Linked DNA regions of Homo sapiens. The protein of the gene in region 2 purifies or fractionates together with the protein of the main gene of each other region. This does not show direct contact. Each region holds a gene or a part of one and is shown on either strand. Other genes may lie near its edges. The genes, in order: ANKMY2 and GADL1.

Region 1 (3,834 bases), on a different chromosome or scaffold from region 2:
TAATCTGTGCATACATAGGAAATGTGGGACTCATAACGTGTAAGATTTGATCATTCTAATATTTCCCCTTTAAAGTTATTTATGGCTTCCTCTTTGACCTGTTCTCATTACTGTAGATGATTGGAAGCATCTTCAGGAAAATTTCCATAGAGAAATATAGTTAATTGGAAAGTAAAGCATATTTCATTTTTAGACTTCATTCTGAAAAAATCTCATTTTCTTGTGCTTAATAAGAATTAATGAGAATTGTAGTTCTCCTAGCCATGAAATTCTAGAGCTGAGTAATGTTAACTAAAAGTGGTTATTGCTCAATGATTTGATTCTTTATGTAAAATGTACAAATTTGTCATGTTTATCTTTAGTAAAAGTGAATTTAACAGAGACTGTAAAATCATGTGCTCTTGAATGGCATACTGGCACTGTGGTGTAGGTAGATGGAAGATCACATTATAACTTTGATATACAGAGTTCAAGAGATTCCACTATTTCAGGGTCTTTCTATATTAGTTCTATAAGTTCTGGGTAATTTGCATTCTAACAAATAACATAATAACTTCATGATCCTAAGGAAGGCTTTCTTTGGTAATCTTTTGAAATCAACTAAATGGACTACCTAATTTGTACATGAACAAGTGTCTCCTTTAATACCTGAGTACACTGGGATTTCCTCTAGATCGTGATGCTTGTAAATGAGAATCCTCTGCTGACAGAAGAAGCAGCCCTGAATAAATGCTACAGAGTGATGGATTTGATTTGTGAGAAATGTATGAAGCAAAGAGACATGAATGAAGTATTGGCTATGAAGATGCATTACATAAGCTGTATCTTTCAGAAATGCATTAACTTCTTAAAAGATGGAGAGAATAAACTGGACACCTTGATCAAAAGGTACTCTTTTTACTATGTCGTTTATAAAATACACTCAAGTGAATATTTTTTTTAATATGAAGCCTCATTATTATGTGTTTCAAAATTAAACATTTTGGCAGCAATTGCTGTTGTTGGACTCACATTTAGTCTTTGACAAACAGAGAATAATATTATACTTATATTGAGTGATTATTCAGTTCTGTATCCTTTACTGTGATGTTTTTGTTGTTACCAGCAATTTACAGATGAGGAATCTGAGGTTTGGAGAGGTTAAATAACATGTGTAAGATCACACCGCGAGAAAGTGGCCCAAGTCCAAATTTGAGAATATTTTATGCCCTAGGTCGCAGCCCTAGGTTTGTAATGGCATCCAGGGTGTCTCTGTTACTGTATCTTGGAGAGCTGTGTGTTATGCTGCTTCTCTGACCACCAGAGATCAAATTCTCTTGCATCCTTACCTAGAAAAGGGAACTAAGTCTGAAGGGTGTGGCTCTATGAGAGTTTTCATTCTTAGTACAAATAACTGACATGGTAATAAGTAACTAGCTAATCTGATAACAGTGTTTAGTGTGTTTTATGGTGGTAGTCACCTTTGCATATTCATTTAATGGGCTGGAAAACCTTATAAGGCCTAGCCTAACATATAGGTTGAACAGCAATTTGAACTGAGCCCGTCATCATGATTTGAAGAGACAAAGAAAATCATAAGTAACAGAAGAAACTACTAAAAACTGTTGGGTTCAACTAGGAGAGAATGCTTAGTGATTCAACTCCAATTACGCTTTAAAAAATATCTTTCAGCTTGTTAAAAGGCCGAGCTTCTGATGGCTTTCCAGTGTATCAAGAAAAGATCATTAGAGAAAGTATCAGAAAATTTCCTTACTGTGAAGCTACACTCCTCCAGCAGCTGGTTCGAAGCATTGCTCCTGTTGAAATTGTAAGGCTCCTCTTACCTAAGTTGACTCTATCAGTAAAACCTAATTCCCACCTATTGTATTGTTAAAGGCAAGTTCTCTTTAATATTTATTTTTATTATTTCAGAATATTTTTAGGAACAAAGGTGGAGATAGGTTTGCCTGCCAAACCTGTTCCTGTTTATTTATTTCCCATCTCACGATCCTCTTCTTACCTTATTATGGTTCATAGTTTCATAAACAGGACGTCGCTATGTTGAAATGTAGATGGTTAGGGTAGAAACTTACATTTTAAGTACATCCACTATGTAATATAGGTACACACATGTACACTTGTAGCTATATGAATTATCAGCACAAAGTCATACACTAGATGCAAGTATGAATTGATCACCTAGGGGGATAGTGTCCAGGCAGTGGGGATGTAGTGGGATAAGCCATGGGAAGGCTCATTGTGGTTCCTGGTAACAATCTCAAAGTATGCCTCAGCTTCCTATAATCCACCTTAATGCCTCTGATTAGAAAATGTCCATACTTACAACCTATTTATACTTACCCACTATATAAGTGTATTTTGTTAACTTTATCTGTTATTTAAATGACTTACTATTCATTTGTCATATATTTTAATTTATTTGGCCTTTTCTATTTTGCGACAGAGTCTGTTTCTGTCGCCTAGGCTGGAGTGCAGTGGCACAATCTCAGCTCACTGCAACCTCCATTTCCCAGGTTCAAGCGATTCTCCTGCTTCAGCCTCCTGAGTGGCTGGGACTATAGGTGCGCGCCACCACGCCCAGCTAATTTTTGTATTTTTAGTAGAGATGGGATTTCACCATGTTGACCAGGTTGGTCTCGAACTCCTGACTCAGGTGATCTACCCACCTCGGCTTCCCAAAGTGCTGGGATTACAGGCATGACCCACTGCGCCCAGCCACCTTTTCTATTTTGAATAGGTTTTTGTTTACCCTATCTATACCCATTCATGCTTTTATACGTTTCAATCAAAAACTTGATCAGCTTTTGTCTATCAGGCAAGAAATTGATCCTAAGACCAGTCCCATCCATGGCTTCCTCCCTCCCTCTGGCAAATCTGGTTCCCTTCTCTGTGCCTTCTCTCTGGGTTGTTATGTCATTCTCAGTGTGGAACATCAGGGCTTCAAGTGGGCTCCAGATGCTCCTTTGTACATTAAGAATTCACCTAGTCTGAGCCATAAAATAAACAAGAAAGACCTGAGCAGAAAAGACCATCTCATAAAGCTCATGCATTAATTTGTTCATGTGTGCTCCCCCTATTTTCAAGAGTTTCTTTACTCATACTTTTTAATATAGTTGGCTATTTAGTGTTTATGCTTTTGGAAGAATAAAGTTAGCAAATTATGATTTGTCAATTACAAATGTGTCTTGGCAGCACATATCAAAGCCCAACCAACCATGAATTAAATAGATGAGGGTTTATGTATTCACATATACATAGATGCCCAAAGGTAGGCAGACTAGGTCTGGCATAGTGACTTAAAAATAGTTTGGGGACCCAAACACTTTCTCATCTTTCCCTTCCAATATTCCTTAGCTGTGTAGGTTCTCATATGCATACTTATGATCTCATGGTTACGAGGCATTTGATGTTCCTCCTCCAGCTCACATTCCTATCCCAGGCAGGCAGGAAGAGCAAAGGGGTCTATATCTGGAAAACATAAGCTCTCCCAGAAGCCCTCTGCCTGTGTCACATGACTTTCCTTAGCTACACAGGAGTCCAGGAAAATTTTTTTTTTTGGCTTTTCTAAACACTCCTCCTCTGAACAAAATTACACTTCTGTTACTGAGGAAGCTGGGAGAATTGATATCAGAGAAGCAACTAGCAGTACCTGTTATGTGGGATTTCCAGCACTCACAAATGGTTGCTGACCTTTTACCTTCCTGGGAAAAAACAGAAAAACTAAAACAGCAACCCAGAGTTCTTTAAAAAAAAAAAAAAAAAAAAAAAGCAGGTCAATATTGTGGTCAACAAGTTATCCTAGCTCCATATAATAGAATAATGTAATTAGAGTTT
Region 2 (2,816 bases):
TAAGTCAAAGCGTGGTTCTCCATTGCCCTGTGGCCAGAGAGATTTTAAAAGCAGTACAATATGGTGGGTCAGAGGTTTAAATTATATGTGAGTGTGTATATTAACATGTGCATATATGCACAGGCACACACACACACACATGCTTATGCACGCAGACCCATTTATATCCACATATGCACGAGAAGCCCTCCTACCTAAGGTGAGGAGGATTAGTCAGGTAAAGCAAATAATTCTAGAAAATAATGTGATACATACATAATGTGAGCATTTTCCCATTTAATATTTGTATCTTTATATTTAAATTTTTAATGTTATATTTGTATATCAGTGTACATTTATGTTACCATCTTTTGATGGAAAGGTTTTTTCCACCTAGTGAAGATTTCCAAATGCTTTTTATAAACAAGTGAAACTTTTCTTAAGTAGAGGTCTGATGATGAGAGGGCCCTCCACTGTTCTTGCATAAACTACATTCTTCAGGAATCATCTGTCTTATGCAGCTCGGGTTTCTTCAGGTGAAGTAAGTACTCAGACACCTGTGTAGCGATCTCCGTGCAGAATCAGTCTGGATTCTCAAAAGCTTTTACAGTTCTCTTGCCTAGTGTGATCACAATGATGTTTAGCCATCCCCCTTTATCTCTTCTTTCCAAAGGACTCAACTTAGTTTTTACAAAAATCACTTTTTTTGGCACTCATCTATCTTTGTTTTACATATTTTTTTACTAGATTTTAGAATTACTACTTGCATACATGGATTTGGAAGAAAACTCAACCAATGCATACAAATTCATGGGTTTGAAGCAGATATGTATAAGCATAGTAGAGAGTTACTTCCTAGCTTCTGGCTTCCAGCATCAACTGGACATTTGCCACTCTTTTCAAGTGAATGCAGGCTGTTGTTTAGTTACATTTTTCTAATCTCTAGAAAGCTCAGAATAAAATGTGTCACATATATTTAGAAGTTTGTAGAACCTGATGGCCCATGCTTTTTTCACTAACTTGACCTCTAACATCACCTTTTCTACATTTTTTCTTTTACACTCATATATTTTCTTTTCATATCTTGTGATAATGTAAGAAACTTCCAGTTTTTTGCTAGAATGGCAATGTGATTTTCCTGAATAGGTGTTTGTTTTGTTATTGCAAGCACTGTGTAGTCCATGTTTTGCAAGACTTATATTCTAAAATTAGTACATGTGGAAAAAAAAGTGTTGAGTTAAAATTAACCTTGAACATCCTTTGAGAAGGCTCTGTGGTTAAGTTCAACACATAATATCTTCAGAGGTCTAAAACACCCAATTTTTTCATCAGCTTTGGAACAGATCAAGATTGTGTTGAGTGTCAGATGAAGTCATTTGACTTGCTGACAAAATGTGGGTATGTTCAAAAACTGGGCTGGTGTGGGATTATCACATTACGAGAGAGGGAGACTCGTGGGAACCCAGATTCATGCCCCTCACCTAAGGAGTTTAAAAGCACACTCTGCCTGGTGTTCTTTCTATATGTACTCCTCCCTTCTGGAGGAGTAAGTCTCATCTTCCTGAGAAGGCAAGGATAGAAACTCATTATATTCCCTTTCCACATATTCACATAGGACACACTCAAAAAGTTTTCAGAGTTAAAATAAAATTCAAGTGGAAAAACTTTGCTTGTATTTCCAAGACAGTAAAAATGCATTCTTAATATTTTAACTCAGTGTATCAAAAATGAACTTCACTATTTTAAAAGTTTACAACCTAGCTCTTTGGTGGCCATACTACTGATTAGAAAATGGACTGATTTTCCCATGTGGTTCTTAAATTAGACTAGTTTCTTCAAACATTAAACTTTTAGAAAAATCTGTGTATCTGGATTATCAGGGCCTGTACTTCTCATGTCAGCTATAGATCTTTAAAATATGTGCTTCCTAATTTTATTACCACATTTACATCTCTTAATAAGAGACAGGGTGTTTATATTTCATATATGAGAATAATATCTAACTTTCTTTTTTTCTAGGATGAAAAATACATGTTCTATTAATAAATTAATAAACTTAGGCTTCAAAATAGAACTGTACATAATATCCATATTTGTTTTTTCTTGGTAGACAACTGGAAGGGTTTCCTTCTTTTCCATCTATGACTAATTTTCTTTATTCAAGATACCTGAACTGGGGTGTTTTTTAGTTAAGACAAATTTGAGAATGAGACTGTAATCCCTGTGGACACCTGATTTGTTTTTAATGAGGCAGCATTGAATAATGATTTACACTTAAGAGTATGGGCTTAGGGAGAAAATGCCTGGGACCTTGAGATACTGATTTACTCGCCATGTACCTGTTTTCTCGACCATAAATGGGCACATTAGTAGCATCTTCCTCACTGTTATTGTGAAGATTAATTAATATGTCTAAAGCACTTGAATCAGTACTCATGAGTCCTCCATAAATTATTATTATTATTAGTGTCAACCTTGTGTGAATGAGAATGGGATCCAAACCAGTGGATGCCCAGTAAATGTCCAATGGCTGGTGAAAATGCTATTGAAATGCCTTGATGTTCTGGTCTTTCACCCCTCTCCCCTTTTCTCCCCACACAGGTGGCCCCAGCCATTAAGGAGAGGATGATGAAGAAGGGAAGCTTGATGCTGGGCTACCAGCCGCACCGGGGAAAGGTCAACTTCTTCCGCCAGGTGGTGATCAGCCCTCAAGTGAGCCGGGAGGACATGGACTTCCTCCTGGATGAGATAGACTTACTGGGTAAAGACATGTAGCTGTGGCTTTGGTCCCCCAGAGGCATAGATCCTATCCTGGGAGAGTTTAGATCCAGAACATC

The links.
Region 1: the proteins of GADL1 (region 2) and ANKMY2 purify together in Homo sapiens (affinity purification with mass spectrometry; one large-scale study listed by BioGRID and IntAct). This does not show direct contact.

The regions. Positions count from the first base shown.
Region 1 is NC_000007.14:16,607,603-16,611,436, reverse strand, and holds part of ANKMY2 (ankyrin repeat and MYND domain-containing protein 2), read left to right. Parts: intron 1-673; coding exon 674-888; intron 889-1,671; coding exon 1,672-1,807; intron 1,808-3,834. UniProt on the Homo sapiens protein: May be involved in the trafficking of signaling proteins to the cilia.
Region 2 is NC_000003.12:30,728,180-30,730,995, reverse strand, and holds part of GADL1 (acidic amino acid decarboxylase GADL1), read left to right. Parts: intron 1-2,580; coding exon 2,581-2,754; 3' UTR 2,755-2,816. UniProt on the Homo sapiens protein: May catalyze the decarboxylation of L-aspartate, 3-sulfino-L-alanine (cysteine sulfinic acid), and L-cysteate to beta-alanine, hypotaurine and taurine, respectively. Does not exhibit any decarboxylation activity toward glutamate.